Regions from separate parts of the Homo sapiens genome. Here all the other regions are reported to be linked to region 1. Evidence: microRNA targets listed by miRTarBase, many of them from high-throughput screens and not tested one by one. Region 1 holds a microRNA gene; each other region holds the end of a gene's coding sequence.

Region 1 (3,992 bases):
TGGATCTGTCTGGACCTCAATGTGCTCTCGGAGAAGCAGCCACGTTAGCAGCAGATACCTTACAGCTTGTCATCTACTCAAGTGATGGCCAACAGAAGCTTCTGAACTCCTCCTGGGGAGGTAGCTGACAAGTCCATTCAAGGGATGAGGACTAAAGAGAACCAAGAATTTAAAGATGTAGGGAGGAAAAACCACTTCTAATAAATCGAAAGGCTCTTTCATTATGCAGAAATGAAAATAAAAGGATCCTTATTGTCAGGAATACATCCTGGCTGTGACCCCCCACACTCAAAGGAGCTGTGGCCGCTGGGGAGGCAGCGGGCTGACCATCTTCTTTCAAAGCAGGGGAACTGCTTGCGGGCACTCACCTCCAGAGTTGACTTGCATCCAATACAACTGATGCAGCTGTCATGATTAACCCTAGGTCGATTTCATCCTTAGGTCAGGGGATCCTTTCTATAATGGTCCTTGATGCATTTCCTAAGAGTTACAGGGAGGAGATGGATGCTAACGGCTCTATCTCTAGAATTCACAATCTTTCCAGCAGGCCAGGGCACATCTTCTTTCTTGGACCAGCATCCACACTCCAAAACCTTCTAGACAGCACTCACTCAAAACTTCCAATATTCACAATATTATACAATAAATACAGCGATGTGATTCTGTGAGACCTGGCAAGGCCCAAAGTGACAGTGTCCAACAAGATGGCCTGTGCTGCTCATGAACAAAGTACCACTGGACAAAGACCTATTTGGGGCAAAGATGCAGTGGGTGAGCCTGGAGGCAGCTCAGCCCTGGCATACACACTTACATGGGGTGATGGGGAGTGCTGGGTGGGGCTGGCCAGAGGGGCAGAAGGACCCCCCTGGAGTCTCCATCTGGACTTGAGTGTCTGGGTCACTAAAGCAGACCCCAAATTGAGCAGAGCACCTCAGTCCACTCTTTTGAAAATGGGTGTGGCCCTTTCCCTTGTCCTACGTCACTGCAGGGAGGAAGGGCCATTTCTGAGCATTTTGTGCTCCTTTTTTGTGGGGTAGGCTTGAATCATGTGCTTTCCTCTCAACCAGAGTCTCGGAGGAGGCCCCCACCTGAGCATTGTCCCCCATCTCTGGGTGTCTTCTCACCCCCTGCGGCTGGGATGCACCCAGCTAGGCTCTGTGAACTAAGGTCGGGATGAACCCTTAAGTCTCCTGCTCCCGAGGAGGCCTCAGATGAAAACTGTCAGACCAGGGCCCAAAGAGACAGACGGCAGATAGGGAGGTATGGGAGGGGCAGGGGAACCACTGTGGGCTTTTCCTCAGAAAAACCAAGACCGGGAGCAAGTTCTAAAGCAGGAAGATGAACACATAAAGCTCCCTGTGTGTCTCACGTGTTTGGGCAATTGGCCCAGCCACCTCTATGTGGAGGGAGGCCTGCTGGGGCTGCCTCTGGAGCAACTCCAGCTCGAGGCTGGAGGGCAGGGCTGGCCACAGGCTTGTCTGTGGAGGCGCTCTGCTGAAAGCACGAGCGCTCTGTGTGGCCGAGGTCATTGTACCCCCGGCTTCCTGCTGGGTGGTTCTGTGATGGGGAACCAGCTGGGGCCTTATGGCATTAGAATCTGGTGGCCATGAGGGACAATGTCCAAGAAGATCAAATTAGACACAAACTGTCTGGGAACTAAACTATCCTACAAATAGACCACAAACAGGCAGCAAAAGAACCAACCCATCACGAAACGTACAAAGACAAAAGGTTAAGTCTTCCAGGAGGCCCTGGAATGTGGACGAAAGTTTGGAAAAGCAAAATGTTGCCAACTCCTCACGCAGGGCCCTGGAGGGACGGGCCGCAGTGGTGGCTTCCCAAGCCAGCAGAGTGGGTGCCTCAGTGACAGCCTAATTCTGGGGCTCCCTCCCATCAGCCACTGAGGGGGTCTTCACGGTAGTGAATGGCACAACGAAGTTTCTCCAGCATGATTTCCAGAGAGGAGTACTGGGGAAGCTTGATCATGAACATGCAGGTCTCCACGCGGATGTAGCGAGAGTCTGGGGAACCTACAAGAAACCGAGCCAGCATCAGAGGGTTGGGCCCACATCTGTGAGGCTCCCAGGGAAGCTGGGCTGGCCTCTGCTTCCAGGTTTGCCTCCTTGGGTAGCCCCAAGCCAATCCTGGGGCCCAGCAGGAGGGGGATGAGGGCCTGGGAACCTGCGAGATGTTCTTGGAGGGAAAAGGGGAGAGAGCTGCTGGACAGCGCATGTGCCAAACTGCTGATGGGTTTGTCTGCCCAGCAAATTGTTTCTTTTTTTTTTTTTTTAACCATTTTTCTGCATTTAAAAGTTAGAAGATTTGAAGCATTCTGGATTTTCAGCTTCTTTTAAGATATGAGAAAGTATCTAACAGCAGGCCTGTATGGCTGGTTCCTGCCGGGCCCTAATCCTCAATGATGTCTGAGTTTTGGCACGTGGGGCTCCTGTTCATTGTTCTCCCTTCACATGGGGCCTGGCAGCCCCAGTTCCAAACAGAGAAAGGCTAGTGTGTCCCTACTTGGGACATGGCCAGGGGAGGGCGGTACCTGCTGTGCCATCTGGGGGGGCGATCTTCATGGGGTACGGGGGCACATGGGCAGTGTCGGGACCCCCATCTTTGCAGGGGCAGGTGAACGGGATGCGCTCCTGGTTGCAGGCAAACTTGATGAACTTGCACAGCTCCTCCTGGGTGAACATCTCCAGGGCCCCCCAGAAGAACTCGATGTGCTGGTCCGTCTCCATCAGCCCCACTTGGTACATGGTGTGGGCCTGGGGAGGAGAGGTCCAGGTGTCAGGAGCCCTGGAGCCCCACCTACCCAGTGCCTCCCCAGCCCTGGGGTCTGCAGGCCAGGCCCAATCCTGGGGCAGGGTGCAACGTGTGGGCTGTGAGCACAGGGAGATGACAATGATGACAATGATACAGGTCTGTGGCAAGGACAGAGCTGAGACAGGCCACTGCCGATGCCTGCTGCTGGAGTTGAGGGTGACAGGGAGGCACGCCTGGGGCTCACCACCTCCCCGCCCAGCCTGGCCCTGGGATGTCTACCTTGAGGAACTCGAGGTTGATGTAGGGGAGGCCGCAGGTGCGCAGCTCCATCTCCAGTGGGCTGAGCATGGTCAGCAGCTGCAGGGGGATGATGGAGCCCAGGCCGGCCCGCACGGCCGTCACGCACTCCACATTCTGCAGCTCCCGCAGCCGCAGGCTCCGGATGGCTGCCGCGTAGATGTCCTTGTTCTCCCACCTGCCCGGGTGAGGAGCACAGGTGAGGGAGAACACCGCCGAAGAGGCTGGGTCTGGGGGCCACACCCACTCAGCTGGAGGTCCCGGATCCTCTCTTGGGAGAGGCCTGGGGCCCAGCCGCCCTGGTCATCCCAGTCCTTTCCTGCCTCTGGTGCCGCCGCCTCAGAGCTGCTGTTTTCTTAGTAAACCCCTTCTGCTGAGGACCCTCTTTCTTGGCACCCACCATCCTGCCTCATCTCCCTCTCCTGGTGAAATCCACCTGTCACCTGACCTAGGTCCTCGTGTCATTGCCCAGGAACAGATGCTGCTGTCATACCCTGGCTGGCTGGCCGGGCCAGCCCCTGCCAGCCCCTGACACGCGCACACACTCACGCCACAAGGATGTGCCGGCCCCGGCTGCACAGCTCCACCTCCTCGCCCGTCATGGTCAGGTAGGTGAACCTGCAGCAGGGCTTGTTGGGGCTGTCAGGGCTCTCCGTGGCCAGGTGCTGGGAGGCGATCTCAGCGCACAGGGCCTCCAGCTCGGTCTCATCATTGATCTGGAGGGTGGAGGCAGAGCGAGGCTCATTATGAGGCCATGGGAGGTGGAACCCTGATCCCCAGGTGGCTGGGTAAACCCCAAGCGCAGCTGGTGGGGTCTACCCTCGGCCGTGTAGATGAGCATGTGACACAGCTTTCGCCAATCAGAACCTGCCATCAGTTCAGGGCCGGGCGTGTGACCCAGGCCAGGCTAAAGAGACCCACATTCC
Region 2 (3,992 bases), not on the chromosome of region 1:
TCTGGTGCTATGCCTATGGTACTGATTGAGCTAAAGAAGAAAAGAGAGGAGGTTCCCTGGGAGGGAGTGGGAAAGGTTAGTAAGAGGGGACTAGATAGGTATGCTCATCCTTAACCTTCTAGGAGAACCGGAGCCTTACCATCAAACTTCGGAAACGGAAGCCAGAGAAAAAGGTAGAATGGACAAGTGACACTGTGGACAATGAACACATGGGCCGCCGCTCATCCAAATGTGAGTAATTGTTGGCCCGCAGTAGCCCTGGAGTTCTGGCTCCCTTCAGCATATCTTGTATCTACTCATATCCACTGGCTTTCCAGAAGCCCCCAGATGTTCATAGTTCTGTCACTTTTTTGGTGGTGCTGTGGTATCAGGGAAAGAGGTAGGGAAGGGCTAGAACTGGAATTGCCTAGGTCTGACAGCAAGAAGTGTCAGAGGTGGGAGAAGTGGGGCTTTGAATTCGTGGCTCTCTAAGAGGACAAGAGGGGTGGGGCCTGAGTCCCAGAGGGTGGGCCTGGGGAAGCTGGATCCTGGAAGGTAGGAGAAAATAGGAATTTTCACTGAGTTTGAGTGGGAATGGAACTGACTATATATCTTACCCTTCCTCCTCTTTAACTGGGCTCCTCCCTCTAAATCTAGGCTGCTGTATTTATGAGAAACCTCGGGCCTTTGGCGAGAGCTCCACGGAAAGTGATGAGGAGGAAGAAGAGGGCTGTGGTCATACACACTGTGTACGTGGCCACCGCAAAGGACGGCGTCGTGCAACCCTAGGACCGACCCCCACCACCCCTCCCCAGCCTCCTGACCCTTCCCAGCCCCCTCCAGGGCCAATGCAGCACTAAATCCCTCTCTCCTCCAGCATTCCTGTGTCTGTCTGGCCCTAAATGTATCCATGTGGCTACTTCTCCAGCCCCCTCCTTCCCTCTCTTCTGCCTGATAGAGGGAAGAGGAAGAGGAGGACGAACAGAGATCCTGAAATTCTGACTTGCTGCTATTCCAGAACCCAGCCTCCTGGGTTTCCCCAGTCCTCATTTTTCCTCCCAATACCCACCCTTCTCTCTCGAGGGATCTAGGCACCTTGGTCCCAGTGTCTTCCTTTTGTTCTCACTGCCAAACTGCCTGTCCTGGGATCTAGTTATCTTGGCCCTGCACTCTCAACATGAGTAGCGAACACTTAAATTGGGTTTTCAACAGTCCCAGCTTTCACTGCCAGGGTCCCAGTCAGATTCCAGGAATTTGCGCCCTAACTTTGCTTGCTAATCCTGGTTTAGAGCTATCCCACTAAAATATTTAATCCTAATTCTTAGTCCTTGCCTGTGAGATATGAGGTCTTACAGGAGACCTCAGAGCTCCCAGCCCTTCTCCTCCTGCTAACCCTTCTCACACCCTCAAGAGGAGTTAGAAAAGAGGTCCTTGTCATTCTCACCTCTTATGGAAAATGGAATAAGAAATAATCATATCCTTTCTTCCCACCCTTCTCCTGTTATTTAGGATTTCTGACAAAGCTGGCTTGAGATTGGTCACTTAGAGCCGACTGTCTCCTCTGCCTTTTGTTTTTCAGCTTCAGAGACAGATCCAATATAGTCCCAGGGACCTGGGTCTCTGGGAGAGGAAGGAAGAGGGAGGGAGCAAAGAGATTGGGGTATGTCCCCTGTAGTACACTCTTACCTCTTACTTCCTAGACTTTGATTTCTCCGGCAGCCCAGATGTTCAGTTCTCTTGGCCCCTCTCTACCCCTTACTGGGATCCGGTTTTCATTTTCCGGTCCTTTTGCCATACACAGTTACAGAGATCAGTCAAATCCATACCACCACTGAGATCTCATTTATTGCCACAGATGCACAAAATAAATAACCCAAAATCACAAAATGTGTTAAATATGGGCCCATTTATACTTATGGGGAAGGGTGTGAGACTATACACAAGGATGAGTTTGGAGATGTCTGAAGTATTCCCAGGTTGAGGAGGAGAGAGGGGAAATAGCACCATTGGTTCCTTTCCGTGAGTATGTGCGGGGAGAAGTTTCAAGAAGGTTCTTATGGAAAAAAGGCTGTGAGCATAGAAAGCAGTCATAGGAGGTTGGGGAACTAGCTTGTCCCTCCCCACCCCCAGATCCTGCAAAAGAGGTACAAAGCTTCCCAGAGGGCCACAGGGCCCAGACCAGAGTCAAGCCTCTTGTTTTAGGAGAAACCTCAGTGGACAGGCAGGGTAGCCCAGTCCTTAGATCTGTGGGGAAGGCCCTGAGCCCTTCTGGAGCTAGGAGTGGCAAGAGTGGGAGTCAAGTATTTGACCAGCAGAGCCTCTATGTAGGAATCATGGTCACTTTACCAATACTGATGGGGAGGGCCTGTTCCCCATTGCAGGCCTAGAATGGTTTGAATGGGAGAAGTCAGGAAGTACTGTAGTAGCTGTAGGGGAGAGAAGATTCTGAGAGCCAGAAGGCAGGAATGGATTTGGTTTTGAGCAGGGACGTGGAAACGTGGAGACCAGGTGAGGTCTCATTATTTTGGGGCGAAAATGTGGGTTGCTATTAATACTCCTGCAATGGGCGTGTGAATGTGTTCCCAGAAATGAGTGGGGAATTCCACCCCCAAAAAGCAGCTGCAGGGCCAGTGGCCGGGCCAAACTTCTAGTTGGAGACGAGACTCAGCTTTCCGCTGGTACAATGCGGAGCGGAGCACGAGGGTCGCAGGTGCAGAACAGCGGGAAGATGCGCTCCCCCAGGGGGCCAGGCGCCTGGAAGGCGTAAAGCAGGTCGAGTGAGCGGCCGTCGTAGAAGGCCACGCGGCCCCGCTCCCAGTCCAGGTCCACGCGAATGCGCCGCGGCGGGGGCTCAACACCGCCCAGCAGGGTGGGTTCGGGTGCCGTGAGGGCCCACAGGCGGCCGCCGCGGCCCTCCACGGCCCACACGGCCCCCGCAGGGCACAGCCTTACGCAGCCCTTGCGTTGCACTGATTCCCCGGCCGCGCCCACTGCATAGTGGCTCTCCTCGTCGTCCGCATCCTCCCCAGAAGAGTCTCTGCAGGAGGCGGCGTCCGCAGTCTCCACCTCCCAGCAGTGGCGGCCGGCCCCGAAGCCCTGCGCACCCAGCACAGCTGGGAGCTGATCGAAGCGCTTGGGGCCGTCAGGGGGCGCGGGCGTCCCTGGTGGGGCCAGTTGTACGCTGCGGCGGTCGGCGGAGATGAGCAGGCGGCGGTGTGCGGTCCCAGGGTCCAGGGTCAGGTCGGCTGGAGACGGGGAGGCAGGGAGAGGACCTCATGAGAGAGTTTTCTAAATCACAGGCGGGGTAGGGTGGAGAATAGTCAACGAAGATCACGTAAAAGACTGAGAGCTAGTGACCACACAACAGCTCAAAAGGCGACTGCAGGACCAAAAAGAAGGAAGGCATATGAAGAGCAGACCTGGGCAATATCAGACCTTGTACTGATGCACCACTTCTGTAGAATTGGACCTGGGGAAGGATCATACTGGCCCAGTGCAGGGAGCACAGCAGGAAGATCAAATGAGAGGTTGTCTCGTTTGTGGGGTTGGGGGAGGAAGAGTGAGGCTGATCTGACTTCGAGGGAGGAGTAAGGACTGATACCTCAATCTGCATCATCTGGGGTGGGGCATGGGAGCTGGGTCAGCAAAATGGGGAAGGTTCATCTAAAGAGAAAGTCGTACTGATACTGGAACCTCAAGTAATGGGAGGGGCACAGGGAGGAATCCAAGGTATCCTGAGAAACCAGCCCACCCACCCACAGGAATTGGGGGGTGGGGTGGACAGTCCTATTTCTGTAGGGGTTGTGGGGCAGAGGAGGAGAGCAGGTGGTGATAGCCAGAGACCAGAAAAAGAACCATTGGCCTTATATGTATGGGGTGCTTTGAAGAAAAATTTCTGGATTAGGGGTGTCAGAAGCAATCTGGACTGGGCAAGATGGTGGATGACCAAGATGGTGGACCACCTTCTCTAGGCAGTTTAAAGAAGGGTAGAGGCACCCTTCTTCTTGGGAGTG
Region 3 (3,992 bases), not on the chromosome of region 1:
GCACCTGTAGCTCATCCATATTTCCCCCACTTCCCAGGATTCAATGAGGCTTTTTGAAAAGACTCTAGAATTCCATCACTTTCCCCCCATTTCTATTGCCCTCATCTTTATTCAAGCTCTAATATCTCAATTTTTTCTGATATCCCAATGTGTCTTGGCTTATCTATAAGGGTTGAATCAACTCAGTAATTGTAAAATCTGCATTTCTTGTTGTATGGTAAGGCTTCATAAGTGTTTTGAATGAGCAAAGTTTTAGTGTTCTACATAGAGATAACTCAAAGCATGATGAAATTTTACCATTTATCAAGAATTTCCCTGTTCATAAGTTAAGCAAAGGCTCAGAACCTTATCTCATTGAAATAACTTCTCTTCTGAATGCTGCTACATTCAACTAATGAACCTTTATCTCGAGTGCATAGGAGTGCTTTTGAAGAAGAAGGGAAATATGTATTTATCCCATTGAAACTACTTCTACTTCGTCTGCTAAAATACTAATGTTAATTTAGTTATGGTTGAAACTGCTATCAAGAAGTCCAGAGTGAAGAAAAATTATGAATTTAGATGGCTTGTATTTTGTTTAACAACAGAATGTGTAATACCTTTCCTAGCAATTTCTAAGAGATGTTTTTTCTGTTCTATCATATTTTGAATATGAAATATAAGTTTAAGTTGCTATCTGGATTACGGATTACTAATCAAGCCAAGTTTATAACTTTAATCACTTTGTTTTTCCTTTTTTCCTATAGCCTGGAATCATTTGAATAAGGACAAAATGTTTTCCATTATCAAGACATGGCCATCTATCTAAATATTATATCAACTGTGTAGACTTGAGGGCAATATTGAAATGATGGTGCTTTCTGCATTTGGTGTTTATTTGTAAAAAATTTGCAGTCCTCACTGCACATGCAAGTATACCACCCTTCCATTTAGTATGTTTTTTAAGTAATATGCATCAGAAACTTCAGAAATACTTCTGCCCTTTGATCAAACAAATCCATTTCCAAGAATCTGTACTAGGGAAGTAAATAAGAATATGAGAGAAACCTTTATGCAAATATGTATATTGCAACATTATTTAATATTCTGGAAAATTGGAAACACCCCAAAATTCTAAACTCAGAGGAAGGATTAAGTAAAGAGTGGTACATACTGTAAATGTTTTCTGATATTAAAAAAAAAATTAAATAAAAAATAAAGAGTACTACATGGTTGTAAAATTACAGTCATTACAAATGATGTTTTTAAAATTATGAATAATGCTACATCAAAAAGCAGGTTACAAATTCATGTTTACTATATAACTATTTAAAGCAAATGAAACACTAATAGTCAAAGTTTAGGATGAAAACTAAATCTAAAAGGAAATATAACAAAATGCCAATTATGCTTGGTTTGGGGCATTGATGACCCTTCTTCCCACTTTTCTATATTTTCCAAGATTTCTTTATTGAATATGTTTTACTATAAATATTTTCTAAACTCATATTTTCACTATTAAAATTTTTTTATTTTTCCAAACTTTAAGGCATATGCTCTTTCCACATTCCTCAACATTATTTGCAAACATCATGAAATGACACTTCCATCAACATTCAATGAGGAAAGTAGTGATATAGATGAGCCAAAAAGAGTTTTATATAAACTTATACAATCTAAACTCTTGCTCTTCCTTTCTGACTCCTGAGGGTGAGTGTGATGGACTAGAAGAGGTAGCCTTAAAATAAGTGAGCAGCTAGGGAACATGCTCAATGGGCAAGAGAAAATGACCACTGACCAGTCAATACCTGTGTCAGGGGGAGTTACCAGTACCTATATTTATTTTTAAAGTAATTAAAAAGTAGAACACTTACAAATTTTCCACCTATACATGCCATGTCTTCCTCGGGGACAGTAGCCACATCTTATATATTTCCCACCATGCATAGGACCCAGCACACAGTGAAGCCAGTAGGCACTCAGTGTTGAATGCTCATACCAGGTTTTCTGCTTCCTGTAGTTACCCTGCTGAGCACTGCTTCCATCACAGGTGCACTGGGCCTCAACACTTCTGCCATTTCCCCATTTGTCTCCTCCATGGACACTGTCAACAATGGTCTGTCAACACCTGCTCTGTGCCAAAGCCAGGGAGTAGGCTGGGGGGATACGGAAGAGAATATCTTTCTCCTTGATGCCTGCTGTGCCAACAGCCCCCTTTAAGCCTTGTTCACAGCCTTTGCTGAAACAAGCATCTTGAAAGCAAGCCATGTTATACACCGCATGACCTTCATGCTCTGGGCCCAGCTGACTGAACTGGGGCAGGCCCCAGAGTCATGGGCAGCCTATTGTCTTGCTAATGGCCTCTGACTTAGCCTGGAGTAAAACACTGTCCAAACAAGACTGGTGGTTATTCAAGCATAAGAATTTGAACTAGGAAGCCAAGAATGAAGCAACCGGACCATTACCATCAAAAAATGATTAAAGGATGAAGAAGGAAGCCAACATTCAGAGAGTATCTGGTTCATGTTAATAATGGTATCATATTAAAAGGAAGATACATGAACTTCTACTCCAAAAGCTCCTAAAACTGCCTTTGCCCACAATGAACAGTGTACCCTAGGCCTGGTTTCTGTTCTTGGATTCCTAGATAGTCTTTCTTCTTTGTCACTGTGCTGATCATTTCAGTAAACCCCCGACTAAATCAGTGCAGCTCTGTTTATTGCAACTAAAACGATCCAAATGAAGTCTCCCTTTTCTAGATGTTGGGTTGGAGGGATGCTAAGACAAAGATGCTTAGGCTCCAGAGTTTTACAGAGCTTCATTCAATAACACTCTACTTTCCAAAGAACTTAAATATGAGGTCTGAAGGACTTGGACCAAGAGGCAAACCCAAGCTACAGACACCATGTTGTACTCAGAGTGACCTCTCCCCTCTGACAGCCCAGGATTTCTCTATCAAGTCCATAAGCTAGTCATATCTAGGACCATCTTGTTAAAAATTCTCTCAAAGTCTCCTCAGCCCTCTTGTAAACAGACTTCTGGAAGGTCCACTTCATCAGTTTGTTATATACTTTCAGACTGTCTATCTCTTGTTTAGATTCAGCATGGCACCGTACGTTGAATGGACTGTTAATAGATGTTTGCTGAATGACTCCACCACAGCATTGGACACATCAGGGGTACAGCCAAATGCAGCATGATACCTCTATCAGGAAAATTAAATTTTAACACAGCCACCAAATATTCTATATTTGAAGAGTATATGCTAATCATGCAATTTTAAGTAAAAAAAAGCTGAATACAAAAAAAGCTGAATATGTGTTTTATATCCTCGTGAATTCAAAGTAAAAAGGAAAAAAAACTCAAAAACCAAATATATGTATGCAGTTTGAGCCCAAATTTTTAATTAAGTAACCATATAATTACATGTAGACATGTATAAACCTTGAGATATGTAAAGACCAGAAAAATATTTAAAAGTTAATAGTTACATCATCTGTGGTCACAACACCCTGAAAATGCCTAATATTGGAAACTTAAGCAGGATTGATCCAGGTTATTACTTGGATGGGAGACCAGATGCTATAGGCTGAAAAAAGAAAGCATAAGTACGCACAAGTTAATACTTAATAATTATCTCCTAATGATAGGACTATAAGTTCTATCTCTTTTCTTTACATTGTTCAGTATTTTCAAATTTCCCTTTGAAAATGTGTTATGTACTTGAATTATTAGAAAAAATAAATGTCATTTAAAAAGCAATGGTCCTCTAATTCTTTCTGTAAAATTCATTTAAGGAGTTAAAATAGAAAATATATATAGGTATGTATATGACTGGCCTTCTCTTACCCTTTCCAGAAATAATCTTTCCACTTTTTAATTCTGAGAGTATTATGAGCTAATCCTGATTGAGAATGATTTATGTTTTATGCATTTCTGCACTTATTATTTATCTACTGTTCTCCTTGCTTCTATCTCATTGTTATTTTCCTAACTTCTTAAATAGAATACCT
Region 4 (3,992 bases), not on the chromosome of region 1:
GGAAGGAGTAGTCAAGAAAGCCAGTTCCAGGGGTCACAAGGCAAGGTTTCCGCTGCGCAGCCACAAGGTCTTGTCTCCAGCTCCTGGGGCAGGTGGAGTACACGGGCCGGGCTTTACCAGCACGCACCCTGCACGGGTAGCAGAGAAAGCTGCCTTCAGTCAGACTCACCGGTTAACTGGGTTGAGACCGCGGGGCACTGGAGGGAAGGGGACACAGCCGTCTCTGCTGAGGGTCAACCCTGCAAGTGGCTAGGAGTCAGTGTCTCGTCATCCTGGGAGAGGTCTCCCGGCCATGGAGAATGAGTTCTGTAGGTACCAAGGCTGAGAAGCGGGCACCACACAAGCCAGGCCCCAGGCTCAGGGAGGGGCTGTGTCTACCAGCCCCAACAGAGCAGTTGGCCCCAGGCTACCAAGGATACCGTGGGAGGAGGACAGGGCCATCTGAGGAGGGCATCCCCCGCCTAGGAGATCAGCCCCGTCTCTGGGGTCTCCGCCTGGCTGACCCCCGCCCCATCCCAATCCACCCCCCAATAGGCTTCACCACGGCAGCATACCTGCGCATCCACGCGGTGAAGGACCACGGGCTCCAGGCCCCGCGGGCTGACCGCATCCTGTGCAAGCTGTGCAGCGTGCACTGCAAGACCCCTGCCCAGCTGGCCGGCCACATGCAGACCCATCTGGGGGGGGCCGCCCCCCCTGTCCCGGGAGACGCCCCCCAGCCACAGCCCACCTGCTGAGGGGGACCCCCGCACCCACCAGGCAAGGCGTGGGGCATGGCTGGGGGGCGGGATGGGGGGTGTGGGGGACAACGGGGCTCAAAGGGCCCAATAGGGGATCTCAGGAAGGCGAGGGATGCCCATGTACCACTCAGGCTAGGGAGACTTCTGGGCACAGGGAGGATCCTTGAGAACTGCTCTGTCTGGGTGAGGATGCAGGCTGAGGCCTCTGGGGTCCAGATAGGAAGTGAGCAACGGCTGTGTCCCAGGGGAAGCAGGCTGGGAAGGTGTGGGGTGAGGGCAAGGCTCTTGCCATTCAGATCGCGCTGTGATCCGTGGTGTTTCTCCTGTGCAGGTACTGGTGAGGTTTGTCCAATGGCGGCGGCAGCGGCAGCGGCGGCAGCGGCAGCAGCGGCAGCAGTAGCAGCCCCTCCCACAGCTGTGGGCTCCCTCTCGGGGGCGGAGGGGGTGCCTGTGAGCTCTCAGCCACTTCCCTCCCAACCCTGGTGAGCTCCAAGTTGGTTGCGGGGGAGAGGGGAGAATGGAGTAGAGTCCCTTGGTACAAGCTCCTCTCCCCCCTCTTTTCCCACCAACTCCTATTTCCCTACCAACCAAGGAGCCTCCAGAAGGAAAGGAGGAAGAAATGTTTTCTTAGGGGAATTCGCTAGGTTTTAACGATTTGTTTCTCCTGCTCCTCTTCTGTCAGACCTGACCCCACACAAACCTGTCCCCTCGGTTGTGTTGAAGTCCCCTGGACAGTGGGCAGGGGTGGCAGAGGACACGAGCAGCCACTGCCCGTACCCCCTCTCCTCTCTGTAAGCCCATGCCCTGTCTTCCCAGGGACTTGTGAGCCTCTTCCCTCGACGGTCCTCTTCTCTCCTTCCAGTCCTCTCCCCCTGCTGTCTGCAGCCCCTCCCCGGGGAGTTGGTGCTTTCTTTTCCTTTTTTTTTTTTTTCCAGGGGGAGGGAGGAGAGGAAGGAGGGGGATCAGAGCTGTCCCAAAGAGGGAAAGCGGTGAGGTTTGAGGAGGGGCAGAAGCAGGGCCGGCAAAGGTTGTACCTTCATAAGGTGGTATGGGGGGTTGGGGTCAGGCCCTGAACATCGTCCTACTTGAGAATCTGTCAGGGGAAAAAGTCAAGGGGAGCAGGAGGAAGAGCCAGGAGGGCCAGAGGCAGAGAAGAGATGGAGTCTTAGGGGCCAGGGTGAGCGAGGGGTCCAGGGCCTAGAGGTGCTTCCTGGGGGCGGGGGAATGCAGCCAGTGTCCCCCTCCCCTCTTCCACCCCAGCTCCAGCCCTGGTCTTGTCTTTTCATCCCTCTTCCCCACGACAGAAGAAGTTGTGGCCCTGGCCATGTCATCGTGTTCCTGTGTCCCCTGCATGTACCCCACCCTCCACCCCTTCCTTTTGCGCGGACCCCATTACAATAAATTTTAAATAAAATCCTGTTTCTGGCTCTGGATTGAATGAATTGCCCTCACTAAGAACTGCCGCCAACCCCAAGGGTTTCTTCTCGGCCTGGTGTCCGTCAATCCAGCCTTGCTCTGCCCTGTGAGGCTGTGAGGTTCTGGCTCCGCCCTCCCCAGGGGCAGCCTTACTGGCGGCAGCACAGATACAGGGCGGGGCCAAGGCTGTGGCTGTGGAGAGCAAGTTCCAGGTCTCTGGGGAATTCCCAACTCGGACAGGCCCAGAATAGCCCCTGGAGGTTTGAAGAGGCCCCGTCAGAAACCCAAACAGAGCTGCCAGACGGGAATGCCGCCCTCCCCCGTCCACACTCATGGCCGCTGCTCAGCCCCCAGCCGCATCCCTCCCCACGCGCGTCACGGCCCTGAGGCCATGGTGGGTGGATGCGGCTGCGGAAAGGCTGGGGAGTCCGAGCCCTAGGACTGGGAGCAGCGAGGTAGAGAATGAAAGCTGCACCTGTCCCTCATCCTGGGCATGGGCCACTCTGTGTTTACACGGGCTCCTCTGCCCAGCTCCTCCTGCCCCTTGGAATTCCCTTTCCTGTCCCCGCTCCGTCCTTTCCAGGGCCCCTTTTTTGAGCCTTCCAGCGCCAGTTTCTGCCGCTCCTTTCTGCAGGCTCCATTCTCTCCAAACCCCACCCTGCTCCTCCTCTGCAGCCTCCCCGCGTCTTGCCCCATCTTCCTTGCCCTCCTGCTCGTAGAGACGCCTCCACCCGGTCCTGCCTGTCTCACTGGTCCCGTCTCCTCGCAGAACCCTCTCCGTTTCCCCCAAATCCCCGTCTCTTCCAGGAATCCCGGTGACCGTTGGCGGGAGGGGCCGGGGACTTAAGAAGGAGGCGTCTCTCCTGGAGGCGCGCGTGAGAAGGGGCAGGGAGGGGGCGCGAGTGGTCCCCGGGCCGGTTGCCTGGGTAACGCGTGGCTCCCTTGGGCTGGCGGGAGGGGCCGGAGGCTCGCGAGGGGCGGGGGCGGCGACGGCGGCGGAGCGTAGGGGAGGGGACCGGAGAGGAGGGGATGAGCACACGGGAGAGGAGAAGAGGGAGACCCGCCGCCTCCCTCCCTCCCTAGCTGACTTGCTCCCTCCCGGGCTGCGGCTGCTGCAAAAGCCAGCAGCGGCAGCGGGAGCTGTCCGGAGGCCGGCGTCGAGGTGAGACCCGGGCAGACTGAGGCTGCGGGTAGGAGTGGACCGACCGACGGCTGACGCCGGGCGGACTGCACGGGAATGCGGGTGTCTGGAGGGCTGGTGGTGGTGCTGGGCGGGCTGAACCATCGGGAGGAGGCGCCAGCCCACCGAAGGCGAGGGAAGCCCCGGGAGAGGGGCTGACAGGGGATCGAAGGAGATAACCAGGTCCCCCAGAAAGGGGCGGGAGCGTCCTCGCCCTAAACGCGCAGCAAGAAAACCCGCACCGCCTGGGAGCCCAGGGAGGAGGGGAGGATGCAGAGGGAGTGGAATGCGAATGTCGGGTCCTCTGCCCAGTCGGCCTGTCGGAGTGCTATTTGCACAGCTCGTTGATTTTGGGGTGCTGGGATCTGAGAGTCTGGATCTTGTTGGATGGACCCAGGGAGAGACCCTGGAGAAGGTCCTGTTTACAAAAGGGTTAATCTTCCCCAGGGCTCTCCAAGCAGAAGACTTTGAGTAGAGCACTCCTCCCGCAGGGATGTCCCACCCTAAGGCAAAGGAAACCCCAACTTTTCTTCCTCTCCCTAGAGGCAGTGCAAGGCTGGCCCTGAGACAGGAATGTGGCCCAATTGGGCCTGCAGTGCTGAGCGCCCTCTTCCCTCCTCACCCCAAGCCTATCTCCTCCTCTTCCAGGGTTTGCC

Evidence for each region. Region 1 holds the annotated microRNA hsa-miR-6861-3p (UGGACCUCUCCUCCCCAG, at 2,772-2,789, opposite strand). A microRNA usually pairs through its seed, bases 2 to 8, with sites in the 3' UTR of a target mRNA and lowers its output. Matches are read on the target gene's strand: a 7mer-m8 pairs with bases 2 to 8, a 7mer-A1 pairs with bases 2 to 7 and ends in A, and an 8mer does both.
Region 2: miRTarBase lists PPP1R11 as a target of hsa-miR-6861-3p. Seed matches in the 3' UTR shown: 7mer-m8 at 1,404-1,410.
Region 3: miRTarBase lists TM4SF18 as a target of hsa-miR-6861-3p. Seed matches in the 3' UTR shown: 7mer-A1 at 3,023-3,029.
Region 4: the mRNA of MAZ is a reported target of hsa-miR-6861-3p. The part of its 3' UTR that is shown has no 7-base or 8-base seed match.

What each region holds. Positions count from the first base shown.
Region 1 is chr12:112,160,494-112,164,485 of GRCh38, forward strand. It overlaps MIR6861 (microRNA 6861), which reads right to left and starts at 2,828; the gene lies at 2,765-2,828. It overlaps HECTD4 (HECT domain E3 ubiquitin protein ligase 4), which reads right to left. Exons shown (of 76, transcript NM_001388303.1): 73 at 3,616-3,782; 74 at 3,049-3,244; 75 at 2,549-2,771; 76 at 1-2,030. The coding sequence ends at 1,894.
Region 2 is chr6:30,068,468-30,072,459 of GRCh38, forward strand. PPP1R11 (protein phosphatase 1 regulatory inhibitor subunit 11) reads left to right here. Exons shown (of 3, transcript NM_021959.3): 2 at 123-231; 3 at 637-1,866. The coding sequence ends at 839. It overlaps RNF39 (ring finger protein 39), which reads right to left. Exons shown (of 4, transcript NM_025236.4): 4 at 1,803-3,224. The coding sequence ends at 2,644. Among named protein-coding and RNA genes, the nearest start is that of PPP1R11, 3.3 kb to the left of the region's middle.
Region 3 is chr3:149,318,247-149,322,238 of GRCh38, reverse strand. It overlaps TM4SF18 (transmembrane 4 L six family member 18), which reads left to right. Exons shown (of 6, transcript NM_138786.4): 6 at 747-3,741. The coding sequence ends at 761. All of the region lies in intron 1 of TM4SF18-AS1 (TM4SF18 antisense RNA 1), which reads right to left. Among named protein-coding and RNA genes, the nearest start is that of TM4SF18, 13 kb to the left of the region's middle.
Region 4 is chr16:29,809,006-29,812,997 of GRCh38, forward strand. MAZ (MYC associated zinc finger protein) reads left to right here. Exons shown (of 5, transcript NM_002383.4): 5 at 1,072-2,159. The coding sequence ends at 1,226. It overlaps PRRT2 (proline rich transmembrane protein 2), which reads left to right and starts at 3,188. Exons shown (of 4, transcript NM_145239.3): 1 at 3,188-3,318; 2 at 3,985-3,992. It overlaps MVP-DT (MVP divergent transcript), which reads right to left. Exons shown (of 4, transcript NR_186424.1): 3 at 1,030-1,168; 4 at 1-128. RefSeq lists silencers at 2,561-2,640, 3,041-3,190.